2 separate regions of the Homo sapiens genome follow, and region 2 is linked to region 1. Evidence: fine-mapped expression QTL. Tissue or cell type: whole blood. Region 1 holds a variant in brackets; the other region holds the start of a gene. All regions are shown on one strand. Distances are from middle to middle.

Evidence for each region. PIP is the estimated chance that this variant, and not a neighbour inherited with it, causes the effect.
Region 2: TRIB2 starts here. The variant in region 1 is fine-mapped to the expression of TRIB2 in whole blood (TOPMed, PIP above 0.99).

The regions. Positions count from the first base shown.
Region 1 is chr2:12,528,457-12,541,256 of GRCh38, forward strand. The region is part of intron 4 of MIR3681HG (MIR3681 host gene); the gene reads left to right. Among named protein-coding and RNA genes, the nearest start is that of TRIB2, 180 kb to the right of the region's middle. The variant T/C (reference allele first, on the strand shown) is at 5,984.
Region 2 is chr2:12,710,919-12,723,718 of GRCh38, forward strand. TRIB2 (tribbles pseudokinase 2) reads left to right here and starts at 6,018. Exons shown (of 3, transcript NM_021643.4): 1 at 6,018-7,659; 2 at 12,342-12,634. The coding sequence starts at 7,390. It overlaps LOC124905974 (a long non-coding RNA gene), which reads right to left and starts at 5,840. Exons shown (of 2, transcript XR_007086222.1): 1 at 1-5,840. RefSeq lists silencers at 5,606-5,825, 5,916-5,975 and enhancers at 5,928-6,567, 6,416-6,485, 7,847-8,484.

The DNA of each region.
Region 1 (12,800 bases):
AATGTATTATTCAATTCAATTTAATTTGTTTCTGTTTTACTCATTTATATGCCTACTAGAAAATTTAAATTTAAATATGACTTATGTTTCTTTTGGACAAGACACTCTTAGACAGTGAAATAAAGGAAGTAAGTAGGACACACCTCAATTGGAAATTAAAAAGCAAAATCACAACTTTTTGCAGTTGATGTGATTATCTGCCTAAAGAAACCCAAAGTATTCATATAAATTATTAAAATTTTTTCAAAGTTCAGCAATTTTGGTAGATTAGAACTCAAAATGTTCCTCTATATATCACCAAAATAATATAATGAGAAACTTTTATGATAGTCCCATTTACAATAATATATTTTTTTAAAAGTCATCTAGGAATGAATCTAAACAAACAGTGTATGTGAGCGTTTGGAAGAAATTATAACTTTATTTCAATTTCAATTTAAACTTTATTTTTATGGAAGAAATTATAACTTTATTTCAATTTCAATTTAAACTTTATTTTTATTAAAGAAAATTTAATAAATGGAGAACTTTAAAAATTTATGTAAGAACCCCCAAGACAAAATCAGCAATTATTGCTAGAGTAACCAAGAAATTCAAAACGAGTGAAAAAAATCCCAAGAATATTTCAAAAATCCAGAGAAGCTGGTTTTAAACGTATGTAGAAGAAAAAGTTGTCAAAAATAAACAAAATGATTTTTGAGCTACATAACAATGTCAATGAACTAGATCTACCAAATACAAAAATTATTATTCATACAGTGAAATATTGCTGTAGCTTATTTGAACACCACAATTGCTAAAACATTTCATGTTTTCAATAAAACATGTTAAATCTTATATAAATTAAGTGAACAGGGAAATATAAGTTATTCATATTGAAAAGAAACCACAGACATCTCCACCCTACACCATATTTATTTATTTATTTCATAAATATTTCCAGTATTTAGGATTAAATACTGGAGATCATCTTTATAGTCTCAGATTTTGAAATGTGTTCTTTAAACAGGATTCAAAATGAGAGCTACAAAGAATGAGTGGTAATTTTAATCTAGTTGAATATTAAAACTTCTGGTGTTAAAAAGAAACTACTAAAAGGAAGACAAAAACTAAAATAATTAGAGAATATGTGATCAACATATATATATATATGACAAAAGCTTATTATTCAGAATATTTTAAAATCAAACTTCTACAAATTATTATGGAAGAGAAAAGCTATTCAAAATAAAAATACGTGAAGGAAATTGAAAGGCAGTTGAAAGAAGAGAATAAACAGATGGTCAAGGAACGTGTGGAAAGATGTTCAACCCCACTGGTAATTACGTAAATAAAAATTACAATGACAACGAGATACAATTTTATGCCTAACAGATTGTCAAGAACAAAAACAAACAAAAAACTTGGCAACACTACACATTGATGGGGATATGGAAGGACATAAAACAAGATGCAAAAATATTGGTGGTTGGATTATTTTTTCCAATATTCTCAAGTCACTGATCTGTGATAAAGTCTAGGAACTGGGATTTTTGTCTTTTAAAAAAATATATATTTCTAGGTGATTTCAATGTTTATCCAATTTTGAAAACAATGCCTTATATTTTCACCCAAACGGGTATACGCACCTCAACTTTTAGATACTTAAACACTACTGTACAATAGCAAAATTAAAGGACTTAACGGAACCTCAAAAATAGAGTGTTCCACAAAAATGTAAGTTACAGAAAAGTAGATACAGTATCACATTGGGTTTTGAGAGCTCCTAAATGGCGCTATCTCCTGGAAACTTGAGTTTTGAAACTATTACAGGATAACTTACTATAAGAAACCATGAATAGTTTAATATCAGAAATACTACAATTCAACAAATTAAAGAATAAAATCATATTGTCATATATTCACAGATCCTAAGAAGATGCTAGATAAAATTGAAAAGCCATAAAAAGATATCTTAGTAAAATATGTGCACAAGAAAATGATTTAACATAATGAGGTTTACTTATCACACACTAACAAAAAACATATTTCTAGCAACAGGAGTGCTAAAACTGCTCTTATTAAATTCCAGAACTAGGATGTCTATTGTCTGTATTACCATTATTCAACATTCCTGGTAAAGTACAATGTTTGTAATAATACAGTATTAAATAATTAGTATAAATACCTTTTATTAATATTTTTTTCTAATGATGTGATTATGTGTCTTGGAAATCCAATGATTGGCCAAAAAAAGATTAGATTGAATAAATTAATTTGGTGTGGGGGCTGAATTAAAGGCACACGAATATCAATAGATTTCCCCAATCCTAGAAATAATCAGCTATAAAAAGAGCTGAAAAATTTCTTTTTTTTTTTTTTGAGACGAAGTATCGCTCTGTTGGCCAGGCTGAAGTACAATGGCACAATCTTGGCTCACTGCAACCTCCGCCTCCTGGGTTCAAGTGATTCTCCTGCCTCAGCCTCCCAAGTAGCTGGGATAACAGGCACCAGTGCCCACGCCTAGCTAATTGTTGTATTTTTTAGCAGAGATGGGGTTTCACCATATTGGCCAGGCTAGTCTTGAACTCCTAACCTCAGGTAATCCGCCTGCCTCAGCCTCCCAAAGTGCGGGGATTACAGGCATTAGCCACTGTGCCCTGCCGAAAAACTTTTTTTGTGAAAATATGCCAAAGCTATAAAATATTTAAGAATGTATTTCACACAAAAGATATAAGACCTATATAGAAAAATATAAAATTTCTTGAAATGAAAACATGTATACTTTTTGAAAACAATTGTGATATCTTAATGCTCATTTTAACAAAACATACATAAAATTTTCATATAATTCCAATAAGAATTTCATTTTTTCAGTGATGAAGGAAAAAGACAAAGATTTCTATAAAAAGTTCTTAAAATTCCAATGCAATGGGATAATAACACAGAGTAAATAAAACTGTGATATAAGAAATTACTGTGGAAAGATTTGTGCTTTTGATGTATTAAAATAACACAAAGTTTAAACATGTTATTTGGAATATAATAATGTCATTTATGCACTTGAATATAAATGCATAAATAGATCAGTGAAAATAAATAAAATCCAGAATGTGATAATCTAATTTATTTCAGATAAAATTTTAATTGAACTGAAAAATGATTTTCTGTTTAATACATTGTACACGAAACACACTGAAAAGATATTTCAGAAAATACCTTTTAAAAATTAAATTCCAAAAAAATTATAAACTGTTATGAAAAATCAATAAAATAAAGCTCTGTAAGTGTAATCTAAGTGTGGTAAAACATTGTAAAAAAGACCTGAAACCTGAATGCTTAAAAAACAAAATAAGTAATATGACAAAAAATAACATGAAATATGAAAATTGATATACCAAAATTGGGAAAAAATTAAATGGCTATGTCAGACAAAATGATGAATTTCCATAAATGATAAAAAAGAGACAAAAAATATAGTCAAAGAATAAATTAGGCAATCATAGAAGAGAAAGCTCTAATTGTCAATTATTATATTTAAAATCACTCAATTTTCAAAGGTTTTCACATCTCTCATCAGATTTATTCCAAGTATTTCATATTTTTGATGGTATTTTAAATTTCTTGGGCATTTAAAATAATTCAAAAATGAGACTTTTCATCTGAAAAAGTCTTTAAACTTGTAAATCCACATGGATATTAATTTTTAAGACATCAAGATTATAGTGACAGGAAATTTTACATGGTTGGTTTATTACAGATGATTTACTGAGGAATAAAATCCTTAATGTGTAGGTAACACAGGCAAAATTATTCAGCAAAAACATAAATCTTTTTTGTCATACTCACAAAGAGTTGTTGGCTTAGTCTTTCTTTTCCAGTAAATTAAGGAATTCTCCACCAGATCTGCTGAGATACGTAGCATCTCAGTATCCTTGATCTATCCAGATACGTAGTATCCTACTGGATACCTAGGTATCCAGTGGACATGCTGAAGTAACATCCTGGAAACACAAGAAAGTTGACTTTTCTCTCCATTCCAAAATATCTTCCATAAAAGCCTATTGGCAGATGACCCTCAACTTCACTGAGACTCAGTTTCTCATTTGCAAAAAGGGAATGGTAACAACCTGATATGTCTTTTGTGAGGCGTAAGTCGGTGATACAATGTCTGAGTCGTATGGCACTTTAGATGATAAAATACGGAAAACAGTACTTTTCTGCTAGATGCTGGTGAATTTTCTTTTAATAAGACATCCGTGAGAAGGAGAAAACCTCCAAAGCTCATGATGGTTTGGCTACCTACTCAGAGAAACTTGGACATAATCAGTATGAGGAACTAATGAGAACAGGAAAGGCTTACTGTGCTTATATCACGTAACATCTACGTGTCATCAAATCCATTGACAGGGCTTTTTCAGCATAAACTTTGTCAGTCTCTTAATCTTGGCTCTTCTACATCAATTTAATAGGGTTGTCTTAAAAACAAACAAATGACAACAACGAAAAAGCCACAACAGATGGTTTATGAAATTGCAGAAGGCTGGAGCAGAAAGAGAGCCATAGAAACAATCTGACCACATTCATCCATTGTAAATGTCACCTATAGCTTCCCTGTCAGGATTACCAAGGATCTCTGTTGATTACTTCCAGTGATAAGAAGTCACTTATGAGACAGGTCATTTTATTTTAATTATCAGTTAAATAATCATTCAACTGAAATCTCCTTAATTTTCCACTCTATGGAGCTACCTAGAAAGCATCAAATTTTACTTTCTCTTGGCAGTTCCCTTATACTTGAAAACGGAATTAGGGTCCCCATTCAGTTTTCTTTCTTCAGTTAAATGTCTCCTTTTCTTTCAGTGTTATCTCCTCATTTGAAGTAGTTTTCTGGTTTTATAATACTTAACATACTAGTTGCTCTTCTCTGGATAAATTCCAAATTGTCAATTTCACTTTTAAACTTTTATGCTCAGAACTGAGTAGGATATAGCTGCTGTACTCGATGCAGAAAACTCATGCAAAAAGTAGCAGTTTTTCTCCAGTGGTTATGCTCAACTGTTTTAATATACTGCTTTGTCACACAGTCATGCCTGGGGCAGTTCAAGATCCTTCAGATCAAGACCTGGGCTCTTCTAGGAAGTAAAATACAAAGGTTTTACTGCAGAGGATACCTCTGACAGAAGTCTGTCTTTCTCTCCCTCCTTTGTATTTTAAGTTGCATTTTGTAGATAACTAAGTCAAAGCACTATTCAGCCCCTGAATAATAGAAGCAAGCCCTCTAAATAATAGAATGCATTAAATAAGAATTCCAAACATTTTATACATATGACACTTGGAAAGAGTTTTCCTGAAAGTAGCCTGAACTGTTAAAAACCTTGGTTCTAGCCATAATATTGATGATCTGTTTGAACTCCTGAGTCATACAATCTCTCATGTAGGTTAGGCTGCTAATATAATACCTTATGGCATCTAACAATGACAAAAATCATTTTGCAGTTGAGTCAAGCTTAACCATACCATGGGCAGGTAAGTTTTTATTTAAAAAAAATTTCCTACTTGAGTGCCCATCAATTCCTCTCTGCCTGGGTTATATTTGTCTCTTTATATTTTTCAATATAGTTCCCAAGAGAAAATTGATCTTATTTCCAGTTCCTAATGAAAATATGAGATTTTAAAAAACTGTAATGAAAGGTTTCAATTTATAGAGGGTGTGTTCTCTTCCTCAATCTGGAATATCTGCAATACCTTCCCTCAAGTGAAATGTTCAGCTTATTTAGAGGATATCAGGATGGTTTGCTATTTCCTGTGCCTCATGACTGCATACGTATTTGCCATCTGATATTTAATAAAGCCATTCAAGGACCATGACATTTCGTTGGATGGCACAGTAAGGAAAGAAGTCTGATGAGACCCAAACATGCGTGGCAGGAATTGGAGGAAGGTACAAGGAAAGTATCTTTGCTTTTGCATTTGGGAGATTCAAAGAAGCAGGTTTTTTGTT[T/C]GTTTCTTAGAAAACAACAAAGTTGTCTCTCCCCCCTACTACACAGAACCACTTTCAGAGAAGACTTTCAAAAGCTTCGACAACAACAAAAAACTAAACTAAAACTAAACAAAGGCTCCCCGGCTACTAGAACAGGGTTTGCTTCATCTTCAAGCTGTTCTTTCACAGCCATGTCCTAGTTATGACAGTGTGGGAAGTCGGAATGACAACCACCAAACCAAACTGGTCTCTGTCTTCACCTTCTCACAGAAAAAAAAAAAAAAAGCCCCATCTTGGAATGTGCTCTGAAGATTTTCTCGTCTCACTGTAGCTAGGAAAGAATTCACCCCAGAGGCTAGAGCAACATGCTTGGCTAAGCTTCCCACAAAACCAAGGACTACTTGCCTTAAAGGTTTTCCTTTCATTGGAATCGCTTATGCATATGTCATCACTGACTCATATCTCATAAACATGATTTACAAAAAAAGCTTGTCAGCTGGGTTTTATTAAATAGTAAATTAAAAAAAAAAACCTGCATCCAGAATATCCAACAAGCTCAACACCCACAAATTCACTGGCTCATCTTCCAGCATCATGTGGTGGTTGATAAGTCTGAAGAACACACACACACCTCATCAGCTCCCATCAAACTCTCTCTGCACCCACGGGAAAAGCTCCACATTCATAGAATTCCTCCCACACATGCCTGCACCCCATCAGCACAAGCAAAGATGAGGATTTACTCTGTGAGTCCAAAGAAAATAAATTGCTCCATTTATACATGACACATGAAAGAAAAAGTCATGCTTATGTCAAGCTAGAAATACACTTTTTAAAAGACAAAATTGTTACTTAAAAAAGGAAAAGTGCTTTGGCTCTGGAATGCCTGGTGGGTGCAATAATTCAATTAAAATTCATTGTTCTGACTCTGGCAAGTATTCATTTGTTCACCAATATTTTAGAGAGATCTATTCTCATTGGTTCTTCGAGTTCATGGAAAGCTTCATGTCATCTTATTGGATTGTCTTGTATTTTAAATGATTACTATATAGGCATCCTGGGAAGATGGAAAGACATTAAAAACCCTAAATCCTAGGCACATCTTCTATCTACTTTACAAAATAGTGTGTATGAAATAATTCAACAGAAGCCAAGGGTATGGAATCCTTAGTAAAACCTGAAATAAGTGAACAAAATTATGCCTTTCAGATTCTGGAAGGCATTTATATACCTTTCCACACCAGTAGTCTGGATTTAAACTGTGATGATAGGAGATCTAGGATTTATAATGAGACCAGTTTAAGTTATTGTGCTCATGATGTATTTTATTAGAGTAGCACTACTGATGACAAACATCTTTTAAAAATGGATAAAGGCAGCAACATGACAGAAGTTTGTTTTCAGCTCATATAAGCCTTAAGAATTGTTTTCTTCATTAGTGCATGACTTTCCTTCCAGTTGTGATTCTGGGACCTAGTCTTCTGTCATACTGTGGCTCTGATATCTTCAATATATGTTTTCCAAAACAAATTATCCAAGGCATCTGGGTGAATCTGAAACTAAAGGAAAGAGCATAGGAAATGACATGTAATCGACTATTGTGGACCACCATGGAAGTAGCACTTGCCACTTCTGTACACATCTCATTGGCCGGGACTCAGTCATGTAACCTCACCTAACTTCAGGGAACATTGAAAATGTCTCCTAGTTGTGTGCTCAGGAGAAAAAGAGAGTGGGTTTGGTAAATAGCAGGCCAATTTTTGCTACTCAAGGAAAAGAAGAAATTCCCATTCTACCATCTTTCCTCTTGTGTGAGAAGGCATGACAAGGACCACAGCTCATCCGCATTGAGTATGTAGCAGACATTTAGGGGAAACTTTCGTCAGTGATTCCAGAGACTGTTTTATTTCAGTTCCTCTCCAGAGAGTTCTCTTAACATGCAGTAAATATCAAAAATGGAGCTTCTGATAATTGTACCATGGGCCAGGGCCTTGGTATTCTGAATAATAATTACTAAGGCATTCTGTTCAATTGGGTTTTAAAGATCAATTGTATCTGAGTTGCCACATCATGGAAGGTCTTTCGATGATTTTTTTCACTGTGAAATCTATGTGCATTTGATCATGTAGACGTCCATTCTTTTGTTTTTCCATTCCTTTCAAAAACTAAATTGAGACAGCTTACAAAATAAAATTCAACAAGTAAATGGTAGACCCAACACCTTGAAAAGGGAATATTATTGGTAGTAAAATTAAATGAAGCTGGGGGTGAGGGTATTACATTTAATGTATATATGCGTCTCTTTAAAAGAGAGGGATAAAGTTGAGGGTTGTAAATAAGCTCATTTAATAGTGGCCAAAGTAAAGAATGCGACCTCAGACATGGGGCCTGTAATTATCTTTCATGCTGCCCTGATGTGCTCTTTCCTTCCAGGGACTCCCACATTTCCCTAAATCCATTAACAACAAGAACAGAATAGAGGGGAAAATGCTTGAAAAGAATATTTAATATGAGTGATGAAATCAAGTGCTAAATTTAAAAAGAAAGGAATGGGATGGGCAATTATTATAGCAAAAAGAGAACAGGAAAAGTGAAAAGCAGAGAAAGAAAACTGGCAATCTAACTCCTTTTTGACTAGAAACAGGACACAAGAAGCAAACTGCTGGTGGTGTGTGTGTGGGGGGTGTTTAAGCAAAGATGTCAGACTCCCAAGATTAAACTAGTGAAGAATGGGAAGGGAGAGGGAGAAGAGGCAAAATGCACAAAACTCCATAAAAGGGAGCCGAGTGTCCATGTATTTGAGTAGATGGATATAAATAGAACATCACAGTATTCGGAATGTTTGTGGAACTTCTTATGATAACAACGAGCGTCCTATTTTTAATAGGATGCTTACCTTCCAAATTCTATCAAAACATAACAGGAAATAAATATTAACCAAAGTACCAAAAGGCATAGTAAACATGGAGTGCATTATTGTATATATCTACAATGAATGTCTTAGTACAAAATGGGAGTTCAACTAAAAAAACAGAAATGGTTCAATAATTTATGGTGCATTTTCTGAATAAAATACTATGTAGCTATTAAAATGAATAACGTGGAAACACCATAGCAACAAGTCTAATTGTTTATTACATAATAGCAATAAAAAAAGAAGGGTCAAGAGGATATGTGTGTTATGATTACAAGTGTGTAAAAAAACCGTGGACAAGAAATAAAAGGAAAGATTGCGAAAAATATTATGTATTGAAGATCATGGAGATAGAATTTTTATTTAAATGGTCTAACTGGAATATTATTATTTCAACAAGAATAAATAGAGACAGAGAGACAAAAATAAATACTGTCCAGCATCTCTTAGTGTTTGACTTAGCAAGGGTGTCTGGAAGTGTTGGGGGGACCAAGTTTGGAGCATTACCATGGATTGAAACTGTTCTCTGCTGAGACTGGGATGAACATGCACAGAAATGCCCTGGCCAGCTCTGCTTATGTCTTTGTCAGCCAGGCTGACACTCCCTTGCTCAAGTTGCAGAGAGGTCCACATGTGGTCAGTGGTCCCAGCAGGATGAGAAGCATCAAGGTCCTCCTTGCCCATCCTTGGCTCTTGTGGCCATTCCTTCAGCTTCTGCCTCAGCTTCTTCTCATGCCAGTATCAATGAAGGAGATAAATTATGTCCTCTGGGCCTCAGTTTCCTCCTGTGTCAACCTAACAGCCTGGGTGAGGATTGAGGGGAGTGCAGTACTCTCTAAAGGAGAAAGTACCATTAGGTACAGATGGGAGCTGCATGCTCCCACCTTGCCACTGTCCTCCTTTTTTTACTTCTCCTCTGTCTCTCTCTCTCTCTCACACACACACACATGCATGCACCAGCATTTATGCACAATCATGCACTCCTTCTGCTCTATATATCCTCAGCTCTGTCATTAGTTAACACAGGTTGCTCCCTCTTGGCTCCAAGAAGGACGTGCTATTATTTCTGCTTGCCAAACTCATCCTTCAAGTTCCACTGACACCTCCTTCATTTTATCGGTCTACTAACCACTTGAAATGAATGGCTTTTTGTTGTTGCCATTTATAGGACAGAATACTTTAGCACTGTGATAAGATTATCTGTCTGGAATTTCAGAAATCCCCATATACCTGGAGAGACTGATTAACTAAGGAGATCTCTGCAATAAAGCGCTGCCACAGGTTGGTCACCATGGGAAGCCCTCTCAATGTTTCAAAGCACTTTGAGCAATATTCATTTTATTATTTAAAATAAAATATTTTTAAAAATATTATTAAATGTATTATTTATTATTAATAGCATCAAAACTCAAGGAGTCAAGTAGAATGGAATGCATTTCTATAATAATTTTATAAATGAGAAATAGGAGGCCCGGATATATTGCAAAACACACTTAAGGTCAATATCTATTCAGTGGCAGAACTGGGAATAGAATTCAGGACTGTCTGGGCCTCAGTCCTAAGCTCCCTGAAGTACACTTGTGTTTCCCTAATGCTGATTATTACGGCTCTACGAGGTAGGAGGTTATGTCTATGTTAGTAGTTCTCAAACTGTAACAAGTATCAGAGTCACCAGCTGGTAGGCCCCACTTCAGACTCTCTGATGAGTTTATGATTCTGCAGATTTGGGGTAGGCTCTGGTCATTGGCATTTCGAACAAGTTTCCCAGGCAATGCTGATACCGCTGATCACTTTGAGAACCACTCATCTCTATAAATCTTTGGAGTTGCTTCATATAAACTATTGGCCAGCCAATTCTACCAATTCCTTCTGCATAAATGACATTTTTAAAAAATGCCATTATTCCAAATTGCAATGGTGCTATACTTTTCCTAGTCAAGTTTCCCAACTTACAAAATGCCTTCGGATATTGTGGTTAATGGAGTGTGTGGTGGGGAAGGAGTTGCCAAATGCATGGGTCTTTGGCCCTCATTAATATTTAGAGTTTCCTGAACCTTAAGAAATGAGGGGCTCAACAGCATGGTAGAGAGACGTGCTGAAACAAACAGAGCCATTCAGGGCGACAGGAACGAGCTATCGTGTACGTTAAATGTTAACTCCCTTTAAAAATAAAATAACACAGAAAGCAATCTTCGCATGGGAAATAGATCACACTAGATTAGGCAAATGTTGTTGTTTCAGGTGGCTAACCTTGTTGCTCCAAACCCAAGCCCGGAGTTAAAAAACAAAACCACGAGCTGGAGGGGCAGCCTAAAGTGCAGTAGTTTAAATGCAGTCCTATTAACAGTAACTTAATACTACGAATTTGGGAAGTTTGGACTTTGGCCCTCTTGCTCAGGAGACCTTAAAAATAAAGATAGCTGCACAGTGAACATGAGCCACCCGCTTGTTTTCCATTAGGTACCTGGTGAGAGATATTTATTTCGCCTGTTGTCTGCTGGATGATTTTTTCCAGGGTCAAAAGTACGATTGTGTGCTGGGTACACAAGTGTGGAGTTAAGTATGCGGGGCCCTAGAACGGGAGCTTGAACAGATGCTCTTGGAACAGTTGTACATAATTCACTCCTCTTGGAATTTGGCTTCCCCAGTACAACCTCAGTCATGTGAAACATTAAGCCAGGGTGGATGGTTGTCAACTGCAGAGCTTATCCACTGTGCTGCTGAAAGCCCAGCAACGGGACACTGTCCTGGTGGACAGGTTGCTATGCTGAGAAAATTATGGCCACCACATACATTGAAGCGAGAGATCTCAGCTCCAAAAAACCCGATAACGTCCTCAAGAGCATGAACAGGGAATAGTTGTCTGGAGAGAGGGGAGAAAGGCACCACAATGATTCAGTTTGACGGTCTAAACAAGAAACAAGCACACCACCACAAAACCTGTGAAAGATGTCTCTTTCACAGACATCAGCATCTACTCATGCTGCACACTGTTCAATTCCCAGGGGTTTTACCCTTGGGCACCTTCATTAAAACACTGAATTATGCTGCCCTCCTCCTGTCCTTTGCATTCCATGAATAAGCCATGCCTCTCTGCTAGTTCAGGCCTGAAATTTATGGAGTACCTTCTATACACCAAGCATTAGATTAGTGAAATCCCACAATGTAATGTCAATGTCAATACCTTTTTTAAAGGTGTTATTAGAATCAATTTACAAATAAGAAAGACTAAATGATTGATAGGTTTAGTCACTTACCCAAGGTGAAATAGGTAGGAAGCATGAAAATCAGAATCAGGGTCATAACTGGTTGCAAAACACCTTGGTAGATATTTTAGGCATTTTTCTCTCTGCCTATGATGTTTTTCCAGTTGTCTGCCAAGGCAACATCATCTTTTCAGTCCTGGTCCCAGTCCAGTGCTATGTCTTCCATGTGGCTTTCCCTGAACCCTTCCTCCGACCAAGCATAGCTACTTACACTTTGTTCTTCTGTCCTCACAGCCTTTGTGTGCACATAGAGTATGTATCACACCTTCTGCAATTATCTACATGTTTATCTTCCTGATTTCATATACCATGCATGCTTAAGGACACTTTGCTTCATTTATCTTTATGTATAAAATGCCTGGTGCTCAATAAATATATGTTGAATGAAACTCAACTATACCTCTAATTATAACACCATTCAGAGTTGGCTTCTAGGTTGGGCACGGTGGCTCACACTTGTAATCCCAGCACTTTGGGAGGCCGAGGAGGGCGGATCACTTGAGGTCAGGAGTTCAAGACCAGCCTGGCCAACGTGGTGAAACCCCGTCTCTATTAAAAGTATAAAAATTAGCCGTGTGTGGTGGTGGGCACCTATAATCCCAGCTACTCAGGAGGCTGAGGCAGGAGAATTGCTTGAACCTGGGAAGCAGAGGTTGCA
Region 2 (12,800 bases), 180 kb after region 1:
CCCCAGCCTAGCCATGGTAAAGTAAGCAAGTGAGCAAACAAACAAGCAAAAAGGCATAGGTCACTCAAGTGGAAAGTCCTGCAATTTTTGTATGATACAGTTCTCCTTCCTGCCACTCCCTATTGTCTCCCCTGCACTTTCTCCTTGTGTCCCTTTTCCTCCTCTATGACCTACTGTGTCCAAATAGCATTCTAAATCGAAGACAATGATTGGATCATGCATTGGGGCCCTGTGAGTAGAATTGCATGTAAATACAACATCAACCACTGCAAAACAGGGAAGTACATCTGCATAAAAAGGTGACATCTAAAAGGTGACCTTTTAATAGGTACTACTAAAAAATACCTTGTAAATAAGCAGCTGCTTCTCCAACACGAGCTGTTAAAAAAATTGAGAATGGAAATCACCATTATGGAAGGATTTTACGTGGGCCATTCAATCCAAAGGTTCAGTCAACTCTAGAAAGCCTAATGACAAGTAATGTGATATAGTAAAAAATAATCATATAGTTTCAGAATAAACTTTTCTCCTGCCCCCTTTCTTCTCAATACACACATACACATACACACACATGCACATACACACACATGCACATACACACACATGCACATACACACACATGCACATACACACACATGCACATACACATGACCTCCAGGGCCACTGAGTAATGGGCTACCATGGAATAAATTAATTAGTCTCTCTGGGTCCTGTTTCCTCAATCCATAAAATGGAGTAATAATTCAAAGGGTTGTATAAGAACTAGAGAGAAAGAAAGTAGCTGGTCTAGCATTCAAAAGGCATAATTAAAATACAACTATTATTAAAGTTAGTAACAGAGAATATTCTCAAAGTGATGGGGCAATTTATGACAAGGAGTTAACACAGTCAACACGAGCCAAAGCATAGCAGCAAGTCACTGACTCCATCACCACCGAAATGCAGCTAGGCAGCATGACTATCTTCAAAGCAAAGGATCATGTGGATCACGTGGACCAGTGGCTGCAGCTATGAAGGTGTGCACCTCTTCCCTGAACCTCTTCCTTCTTCTCTACCTACACAAATGGATGACAGAACCTCTTCATAAGTTAGCAGAACATTCAAGGAAGGCAGCAAGGGAGTATGAAATTGAATGCAAAGTAATGTAACACTAACAGTAGAACTAAGGCAATGGTGAAGGACTCAGTTTAAGATATGGCACCTTCTAAAACATTACAGAGCAGGATGTATCCTGATTGGGTTTCCCATTCATGGATTGGTTAAATCTTGCATGAAGCAGTAAGTGGGAGCACTTATCTTCTTGGCTACCTTTACTGACTGACACTAGGCAATCTGTAGATTCCATCATCAGGAGTATCTAGATTGGAGCTCAGGCATTAACACCACAAACCTCTTCATTATTGTCCAAGCACAACCATGTCACCTGGATTTTGAACATGTCATTTAAAACCTGACACATCCACATAGCCAAATAAGAGAACTGGGGAATGTAACCTTGAACTGAGGGAGTGCAGCCAGGTGAAGGGAACATCCTGGAAAAGATTCCAGGGAAACATGGAGGCACCAAATACGCAGGAGGAAATGATCCAAGTCATAAACACAAAAGTAGGAGCCTGGAGTCCATGGGGTGATGAGCAGCTGGCCGGTAGGTAACCAAAAGTGAGAGACGAAGTTGTTGGGAAGTTCCTGAATTTCAGGCCAATGGGTTTATGTCTAAGGCTCTAACAGCTGCTTGGTCAGAATGCTTGTGTCCCCCCAGATTCACATGTTGAAACATAATCACCAACGTGATTGTATTAGGACATGAGGTCTTTGTGAGGTGATAGGTCATGAGGGCAGAGACCTCAAGAATAAGGTTAGTGTCCTTATAAAAGAGACCCCAGAGAGCTGTCCTGCCACTTCCACCACGTGAGAACAGTATGAAGGTGCCATCTATGAACCAGGACTCTGGCCCTTACCAGACACAAAACGGGCCGATGCCTCGACTTGGACTTTCCAGCTTCTAGAACTGTGAGAAATACATTTCTGTTGTTTATGTGCCACCAGCGTATATTTTATTATAGCAGCCCAAACAGACCAGGACAACTGCATTTTGCACAACTTCAGGGTTTCATTCACAGAGCTGTCAGTGAGAATGGAATGTTCTGGAGTTCAGCAGGCCACAGTCTGCGTGCACATCAGCATGACGTGAAACTCTCTACAACTTAAACTAGAAGTTTATCAAATAGTTTTGAGCCTACACATGACTTGCTGCCCGAGTTGAAACACGGGAAATGTTGTCACATATGGTAAAGGCCTTAAAGTGATATAGTAGTCTTATGGTTTCTTCTCCAAAAGCATTTATTATTATTTGATCAACACACACAGCACTTAGTTTAGGGCTTCACATTTAGCAGAGGCCCACTGTGTGTTTGTAAATGAATGAACTAATGAGCAATAAAGTGAATGAGTGAGTGAAGGAGCAGCTAAATATATTGCAGAATAAAGAATGTTCTAGAAAACATGCACAACATGTTACTGACCCAAGACAACTGGATTTGTCCTACTGCAGAGTAGACTGGTTTAAATATATCCCCTTGTAATTATATAATCCTTTTTTAATTGCCACATATTTTATTATTGTTGCATACTGTATAGGACCATTCTTATAACTATGTTTAACAACTCCCACACACCTTGCCAATACTGTAAACATGTTATCTATTACTATTACTTCATGTTAGATTGCTTTCTGTGGATGAATTCCAACAACAACAATAGTAAAATAGTAACGGCTGCTTTTTTTTTTTTTGAGATGGAGTCTTGCTCTGTTGCCAGGCTGGAGTGCAGTGGCGTGATCTCGGCTCACTGCAACCTCCACCTCCCAAGTTCAAGCAATTCTCTAGCCTCAGCCTCCCAAGTAGCCGGGACTATAGGCATGTGCCACCATGCCCAGCTAATTTTTGTATTTTTAGTAGTGACGCGGTTTCACAATGTTGGCCAGGATGGTCTCGATCTCTTGACCTCGTGATCGGCTCGCTTTGGCCTCCCAAAGTGCTGGGATTACAGGTGTGAGCCACCACACCCGGCCTTGAGTTTTTATTATAGGCAAGACATTGTGCCAGATGCTTTATACACATCTTCCATAATTGCTATACATTAAGACAAAATTTCTATTGTAATTTCACTTTATAGATTAAAATATTCCAAACTTGACCAAAGTCATATGGCTAAAAAGTGAATGAATAAAGATCCCCACCCAGATCTTCCTACTACATGCTTTTTTCTTTTCCAATTTGCTAAGAATTACCGAGTTAACAGACATAACAAATATTTAAGGCACTTGATACAAATTATCTAATTTATCCTGCACTGCAATAGCTCCGTGAATTTAATCAACAAACATAGCACTAAGCCATGAATTTGGCCTTCAAGGACAGGCAGGAGAATGGCCACTGTGTAATTTCATCACAAGTCATAAATTCACTATTAATCCTGTACAGCATCACTAGAGGTTTATACTATTTCTGCTCTCTCTTTCCTTGGAAGCCCAGTAGTATCTACTCCCTGTGATCTGCAGCAGGATCTAAATCCCACAAACGACCGTGTCACTTCCCAATGTCAGCCGTGCTTCGCCATCTCCTCTACTAGGAAGACCACTGTTGCTAGTTGTGTCTATCAACCCCTTCCCGATCTAATCCCAATCAGTCCACTTTGCCAGCCACATGCCTGGCCACTGCTCCCAGCTGCCACTGCTGGAACATGGTGCATTACTAGAAATTTCAGAACATCCCACTCCCTTGCTTTTCCACATTCCTTCCCTCTGCCTGAAATGCCAACAACAATCTCTTATTCATTTTATTTTATGACTCATAGGGCTATTTCAAGGTCCATGAAGACAGGAAATATATTTTTCAAATCATTGTATCTTCATATCCAGTGTCTGGCACATAGTAGGTTTCAATAAATATTTGCTCTGGATTAGTTCAAGGTAATAAAAATCACATTTTCTGGGAAAACTCCCTGACGTTCAGGAAAAGTCATTCCCTCCTCCATGCTCCCTTGAGGCCTTGATATTCTAATTGCCACATTGTTACACAATGACATTATTTGTTTCCCAGTCTTTCTGCCGGGCTAGACCCTGCGCTCTTGGGTGGCAGAGACCAGATCTTACTCATATTGGATCCCTAACACTCAGCACAGAGCCCGGCTTATAGTAAGCCTTCATAGATTTCCTGGAATTGAAAATATAATTCTAAAGCAACCACATGAGGTGAGCAGGGCGGGTATTATGCTTCTCATCTTACAGATGAAGAAACAGGGATCTAGGGAGAAAAAACAAGGTCTTCACCCAATTTCCATTTGAAATCAGAGACCCAGCCAGGGCTAGCACACAGGTGTCCCAACCCCTAATTATTACAAAGCTCTCTTGGCCACTGCATAGAGGAGGCTAGGCACCTCTCTTTCTGACTCAACAGCAGGGGTTGCTTCGAGACTGTTCCTAACACAGGCCAAGTGTCTTCCTGGGGTAAGACTGGATTAGGGGACCCTGCTCGGTCAGTGGTCCTGGTGATCGCCTAGGGAAATAGATCTATTCTGCTGGGATCTGGGACTGAATCCTAGGCAGGTTTGTGGGGAGTAGGATGGTGAGAGGTGCTGGAAGGCACGGGTCCACTTCTTAACCTTCCTTTTAACTCTGTGCTGCTGGGTGGAAGCTTTATAGTCAATGTCCTCTCCATCTCTGGCCACATTCCCAGGACTCCTGATCATTAGAGTGACTGTTGTCCCAAGTGGACATAATTATAAATAGCTCCCTTCTTTTACTGAAAGTGTCCTACAGTGGACAATAATTTAGTCCCCTCCTCCAGTGGAAAATATACTACACGCATGCAAAAGCTCAGAGGGCTCCAGGAGTCGTCCCAACTCCCCTTTCTCAGTTCCTTGGGATTTTTTTTTTTAAGTTTGTCCTCTACTAGATCGCTTCTCATTCACCAGGATATCTTAGATCAAGGCTGGCGTTTGAAGCCTCTGCCTGAGTTCAAGCCCCTTGCTTCCGGTGTTCCTGTCCAAGCCCGCGGACTGGAATCTCCCAAGGAAGTTACGAATAATTCGGGGGGGGTGGCGAAATGGGGGGTGGAGTGGGGCGTGAAACTGCAGCCTTCACCTGGCTAACAGAAGAGGACTCAGGACGCCCAGCACCCTGGATAGGACCCAACAGCGCTCCCTGGAGGTGTGGGTGCAAAGTTTTGTCTAGCTTGGCCTCCAAGGCCCTCCAGGCAATGCACTGGGAAGGGAAGAATTAGTGATTAAATTTGACCTGAATCAAAAGATGCCTTCAGTTCCTCTTCTGCTGAAAACACTAGAAATACAAGCCCAGGATGTGGGGATCGGGGGCAAGCGGTGACACCAACTAAAAGGAAGCAATGGATTTCCTTTTAAATGGAGAGGAGGATGTCGGAGAGATACCATGAAACGAATTCTCGAAACTCCAGGCAGCAATACCGATGAAAGCGCATTCTTCCAAAACAGAGCTCCTCATTCAGGGCCACATCTGAGCCTGGGGGCCCAATGCTCAGAGCGTGCCTGGCTTTCTGGGGAAAAGCGCCAGGAACATGAACGAGCTACGAAGAGCTGGAGCGGGCGCTGCGGGAGCAGCGTGTGGGGAACGGCTCGGGAGTCGCTGCTGGTAACCCCGGCCCAGCCGCCCGCAGCTGGGCTCGCAGCCGGCTCGCAGCCGACACCCAGGGTGCTGCGCCCGGGGCCCCGGGCCGCGGAAGGATATTTCACTTTGTTTACCTCCCCGGCCGGGCGAGGGAGCTGCGAGGCCGGTGCTGGCGCCCCCGGCACGGAGCTGCAATGGCAGCGGCGCGGGGAGCCGCCCGAGGACTGGCAGCGGCGGGGCTGATTGATGGGCGCCCGGCGCAATGAGGGGGGCCCGGGCGGGGGCGGGGCGGGGCCGGCTCTGGGCTGAGCCAGTCGCGGGGGCGGCGGGGGGGGGGCGGAGGCTCCGTGGAAATGTGTCGGTGACATTGAATGGGGAGACCGAGCGCGAGCGAGGCGCGCGCGCGCACACGCGCACTCACGGCCCCGCTCGCTCCGAGATCCCCGGCCACGTAAGTAACTATTAATACCGCCTCGCCGGGGGATGCGGGCGTGCTGAGCGCGGGGATTGGCCTCGGGCACCGTCGGCCGTCCCCTTTAATTTTTAAATACACGGTCCCCTCTTTTCTCTGGGGGGGGCAAGCAAGAAATCAAAGAAGGAGGAGACAAGCCGTCAATTTTCTCCAAAACAAACCCCACCGGGCAATTTGGTCTCGGGGTAGGGGGAGACGGGGTGATTGCAAATTATTCCAGGACGAGATCCAGTTCTCCAGCGGGAAAGGGGCAAAGGAACGCCGCGCGTTGGAAGGGCCAGGGACGCAGCTCCCCTTGCAGCGCCCGCAGGACCCCCGCAAGCTCGTGCCGGCGAAATCGGAGACCGCCGATCTGTCCTCGTTCTCTCCTGCACGTCTGGCTGCATTCGGAGGAAGACCTGGGGCGCGAGCGAGCGGCGACAGCATGAGCCTGTGCTGACCTCCGCGCGGCGGGCCGAGCCCAGGGCTTTGTCGCGGTACCTGCGCCCAGCCCGCGCCGCAACTCTGTGCCCAGCTTTTGCAATCTTTTGTTGGCAGCGCTGACCGCACCAAGTTAAATGCTCCCTTGCAATTTTTCTTTTTTTTGTTTGTTTGTTTAATTTTTGGAGAGCTCGCGATCTTGGAAAAGCCTCAGACGCCATCTACAGTTAAAACGTAGGTAACTGCCCTCTCCCGCACCCCCCCCTTACACGCCCCCCACCCTTTCCACCAAAAAAAGGGGGTGCAGCGCGGATTCTGGCTGCCGTGCGTCGCCAGCCGGTAGACCCGTGCTTGTTTCCTTTCTCTTTTTGTTTGGCTTCTAACGCGTTGGGACTGAGTCGCCGCCGTGAGCTCCCCGAAGACTGCACAAACTACCGCGGGCTCCTCCGCCCCGTCTGCGATTCGGAAGCCGGCCTGGGGGTCGCGTCGGGAGCCCTGGCGCTGCAGCTCCGCACCTTAGCAGCCCGGGTACTCATCCAGATCCACGCCGGGGACACACACACAGAGTAACTAAAAGTGCGGCGATTCTGCACATCGCCGACTGCTTTGGGGTAACAAAAAGACCCGAGTTGCCTGCCGACCGAGGACCCCCGGGAGCCGGGCTCGGAGCAGACGAGGTATCCGGCGGCGCCCATTTGGGGGCTTCTAACTCTTTCTCCACGCAGCCCCTCTTCTGTCCCCTCCCCTCTCGCTCCCTTTTAAAATCAGTGGCACCGAGGCGCCTGCAGCCGCACTCGCCAGCGACTCATCTCTCCAGCGGGTTTTTTTTTGTTTGTCGTGTGCGATCCTCACACTCATGAACATACACAGGTCTACCCCCATCACAATAGCGAGATATGGGAGATCGCGGAACAAAACCCAGGATTTCGAAGAGTTGTCGTCTATAAGGTCCGCGGAGCCCAGCCAGAGTTTCAGCCCGAACCTCGGCTCCCCGAGCCCGCCCGAGACTCCGAACTTGTCGCATTGCGTTTCTTGTATCGGGAAATACTTATTGTTGGAACCTCTGGAGGGAGACCACGTTTTTCGTGCCGTGCATCTGCACAGCGGAGAGGAGCTGGTGTGCAAGGTAAAGGGCCAGTGGGTTGCTTTTTGTCTTTGGAAGGGGCCCGAGGGAGCGGGAGGGCGCCAGGCCCTCGAGTCTGGGAGAGGGAGATTCGCGGGATAATTACCGTGGCCTTATTAAATGGGTTTATTTATTTATTTGCTCAGGTTCGGTAAGTTGCGAAGTTTTTAGACCGTTTCAGACAATGGGGCGGGCGGCAGTGGGGGCGTTTCGGGGAGAGCCCGGGGAGGAGAGGGCGGCGGGACTGCGCGGGGGCCACGGACACGCGTGCACCGAAGGCTCCAGGAGCTCTCTGCGCGAGGCCGGGTCCCGCTGCCCGGGGGGGATTTCTTCCTGTGTCTAGCCCCCTCCCCTTCCAACAAGGATTAGGGAATCCCCCGGTAATTTTAAGACTGATGACTTCGTTCTTTTCGCAGCCATTGTTCTTAGCAGCGGGCAGGTGTTAAACCTTTGTTCCGAAGGTGCCCTTTAAAACAGACACACAAAGGTGCCCCCTTCGGCTGAGCCCAGGGGCCCAGCGCAGGGAAGGAGTTTACAAAGACCTTTCTTCTGCCTGGAGCCTTGAAAGGAGGGTTGGGGTGGAAATCAAAGCCTGAGCACTTTCTGGTGAATAGTGAATGCTTTGGGTCTTTCTCTCTGGTCTTGGTCTCTCTCCCCATCTCTAGACTTCCCTGTCTGCTCATCCCCTCTCTTCCGTGCCCCCCTGAACAACACCTTTGCCTGTAAGGTTAAGAGGCTCCCGTTTGGAGCCCTAGGGATCCGCAGTGGTAATACCACTGCGATGGACACTTCGGTTTCCTTTTTTGTCTTTAACCCTGAACAGTGACTGGTTTATGTATATGTGTGTCTGTGTATCTTTGTGTGCACCCACCGGGCCCCAGACAAGTGGATGAGGGGCGAAATAGTTGCGAAAAAGAAAATAACTATAATAGAGCATACTACTACCCAGAATTGGACCTAGATCAAGGATTCTTTGTCACTTAATTTTAGATTTGCTGACTGTTTTTTTTTTTTTTTGAGGGGGTAAGGGGAGAGTGGGGGACCCATTCTGCCTTTGAAATGGTCACTGGGCACGGTTGTGCTGCAAATAACACATCGCGCTTTTGCCATTCACCACAGACTACTTTGCGGACTTGCCTTATTTCCTAGTGGACTGGAGTATTTCATTGCAAAATTTGGGTTTAGTGGAGATCTCCAGTCAGTTTTGCGATTGTTCAGTTCAGCCCTTAGGGGGAAATCGGAGACTCTTTAAATGTTGCCCTTTGCTTGTACTGAGCATTTGGTATTTTGCATCTTCTCTAAGTTATTGAGACCCAGAGCAACTGTGCCCAGTTAACCAAAATTCAGTAGCTGGATTGAATTCTCAGAAGTCTGCAAGGTTGCACAATAGGATAGTCATCCTTTGAAATGAATGAATTCCACAGAACTGCCACTCTTGTATGAAATATGCACAATCACCCAGCAGTGAATATTTTCATTCCTTTTGCTCAACTTCAGTACAGCATTTTAATATTTTTCAAAGGCTGGAGATGCTTTTAAGTATAGGGACTCTGCAGCCAAATTCTGCAGGGGCATCTGGCTGTTACTTCTTTGTTTAAAATCAGAGGTGACTCTGGCCTCTGCTCATTCTTTCTCCAGATTTTGCAAGACATATTTCACTTTGGGCTGACCTTACAGTGTCATTTGCAGACTTGTGCTCTGGCCTCAAATTGGACTTAATCTGCTGGTTTAGTTATTGCAAAGATTGAATCAGCCCCTCACCAATTACAGTGTGGCTGCAAGTGGATTTAAGTGCAGTATCATTGTTCTGCTTGACAGAGGTCATCCCTTTAAGACACAGCAGCTTCTGTTTTCCTGACTTTTTACCATAGATGATGTGGGTGACTTCTTATGCAAGCATAGTTGTGTATCTCCGAAGAAGCTCCAAGAGAGTTTTATAAGGCTGCTTCTCTGAACTGCCCTGAGAGATATATATGCTGTGGTCTCTTAGCTTACTTTAAGGCTCAGTGAAATCTACACATTGAATCTAGTTCCTTTTGATGTCTTAGAATAGAAGGCTCATGTTTCCTAGCTGTGTGTTGACCAATGAAAAAATTCTTTGCAAAAACAGATCAAATGTAAAGATGCTATTTATTATAGGGGACTGCGTAGAGAATTCCATAGGACACTATTTGGAGGAATAGAGATTCCAGAGTCATTTAAACAAAATAATCAAGGCTGCTTATTGTCTCCATGTACCTACTTTTGCTAGATGAATGAAGGCACTTTAAGGAGTCTTTAACTGTATGTTTTCATGGAGATACTGGTAGCTACTGTGCAGATTGACATAATTACTATCTTGGCAGAATGGGTACTTTTTTTTTGCAAATGTTATTAATGATGGCCTAATCTTACTGCCTTATCTGAACTGTCACATTACATAACCAAGGCTCCAAATTAAACATGTAAAGAAGCTGGCACCAGGCTTGTGGCTTGATTTTGCACGTGAAGATGATGGTTTAAATACCAGTCCAAGCCCCTAAATGCCCCTGATAGCTACTAATAAAAGTTTGGCTCCTTCTCGTGTGGGAAAACATAAGTACTTATTTTATTTTTCATACTCTGTCCACCATCTTGGAATTTGGTCTCTTCTACAAAAGGTATGGCTACATTTGAAGCTGCCACAAATATGTTAGTTTTTTAAAAATTCTGTCTCCAGTTTTTCAGCAGTGGAGCAGGATAATAGGCTAAAAGTGCTGAGCAAAAGTCACCTTTTATGTTTTTGTAAATGCACCTGGAAACAGGAAGTAGATTATAAATAATCATAACTCTGTGAGCACTGGCGACAGAAGCTGCAACCTGGTATTTCAGAACACAGCATCTTCATTATATGATGCAGTGTTTACGTTAGCCACTGCAAAGCTTATTACTCCTCGAAATTTTTGAGGCTTCCCTGGGTTTCTGTTGCCTGCATTCAGGGTGTTAAAGTTGATTCAAGCATTTCAGATTCCTAATTGAACAGGCCTCTTAGGTCACTGCTCTTGGGTCATCATTTGACAGTATCAGTGTGTGATTTGTGGTCTCTGGAGATGTTGAAGTATTCTTTCTTAAATTCTAGGTTATAGTGGCAGCAGCTGTGCCGCTTTTCTGAGATGCCTCGTTATGGTTCATTCACAACATTACTGTTAACTTTGCTTCCTTGGCCGTGTTAGCAGCAACTCTTGAGGTTTTACATCCCTGTTTGACTCACAGATTTTGTTTCAATTTTTTGAAGCTTAGAGCAACTTAACTCATGGATTCTTAAATAGCAGTCTGTGGCTTTGGATGGGCTTCAGAAAGCCCGTGAATCCCCTTAAAATGAATCCGGTATCGTGCATGCATTTGAGAACGGGCATTGTCAGCTAAGAGGGAACAGAGCTTTTATCAGATTTTATGTGACATCAGGACCCAAAAAAGGTTAACACTGTTCTAAATCAACATCTTCATTTTATGAAGAGGAGGGAGGTCCAGTAACCCTAAGCTCTTTATCCATCTCATCCAGATTATTGGTGGCAGGGCCAGGATTAGTGCCTCAAGGTTGCCGACTTCCAGTCCAGCATATTTCCTACCACACTGCAAAATGATGATGAAAGAAAGTATGTCTAACTAGTGAAAAAGCGATTTAGGCAGCTAAATCATTGTGAACTGATAGCATGCAGTGTATTGTTAGGGCGTTCCTGCCTCAGATGCTTTCCAGCGAAGCTCACCCACGCATGCCCCTGGCTCACGCACACACTGAATAGATTCATCTTACCCACATCCCAGGCAGATAGAAAAACCACATTCCAGACCCAGGGACTTGTATTCCTGATTTAGTGGAGGTCTTGAAATGAATGAAAGCGCCTTTTATATAACCTCAAAAATTCTCTGTAGTGTTAATTGCTGTTAGGTCTGTTTCAAAAGGTATTGATGGTGCCTTTTCTTTTTAAGCAACCGCACAATGAGTTGGCATTTTGCAGGCTAATTTTGATTCATAGAAAATCATTGCATAACTGGTTCATTGAGTTAGATATCTGTGGAGGGAAGAGAGGAAGAAGCAAGGCTGCTTCCCTATTCAGAAGGATTCTATCATATTCCTACCTCTGCCACTGGGGGCTTGAGTTTTGGCTCATTCTCTGAGCCTCAGTTTCCATATCTGTAAAATGAAAGTATTGAATTAGAGACCACTGGGCAAAAGCTAGCTGTTTATTCTCTTAGTTGCTCATGTGTTGTATAATGCCTGTTTATGTGCATTTCTTTTTTTTTATTTTTGAAGGCAAATAAAGTGTTGTTGATGTCATTGAGGTGGATCACTTTCTCTCCAATTTTGCCTTAGTTCTATAAACACGCAATTGGGCTAGAGACAAAAGTAATGAAAATTATTATTTCTGTACTGCATTACGTTTTGCAAAGCACTATCACCTTCATTTTCTCATATAATCCTCCTAACACTGTGAGTCAAGTATCAGTTTCCCATGTTGTACGTAAAGATTTGGAGGCTCCGAGAGGTTAAGTGACTTGTTTAGTGCCACACAGCTGGTAGGAGGCAGGGCCAATGTGGTCTGGGTCCAAGTTCAGCATATTTTCTGTCATCTCAAAAGCCCATACCTGTGGGAGGTGCAGCATTATGTGTTTTGGTTGTACAAGAGGCACCTCTGACTTTGGTCTTACTGTTAATCCTGTCGTAGGTGTTTGATATCAGCTGCTACCAGGAATCCCTGGCACCGTGCTTTTGCCTGTCTGCTCATAGTAACATCAACCAAATCACTGAAATTATCCTGGGTGAGACCAAAGCCTATGTGTTCTTTGAGCGAAGCTATGGGGACATGCATTCCTTCGTCCGCACCTGCAAGAAGCTGAGAGAGGAGGAGGCAGCCAGACTGTTCTACCAGATTGCCTCGGCAGTGGCCCACTGCCATGACGGGGGGCTGGTGCTGCGGGACCTCAAGCTGCGGAAATTCATCTTTAAGGACGAAGAGAGGTAGGTCTCATCCTGTCCAGACCTGGGTACTGTGATGGACTGCTCCTAACAACAGCTTCCTAGAAAAGTCTTGAATGGACGTTTTTTTGCCGTCTGTGGTCCAGATGAGGGGAAGGAATCTTAGGAGGGCAAAAGGAAGTGAATATTGCAATTTTCAAGTGTTTGG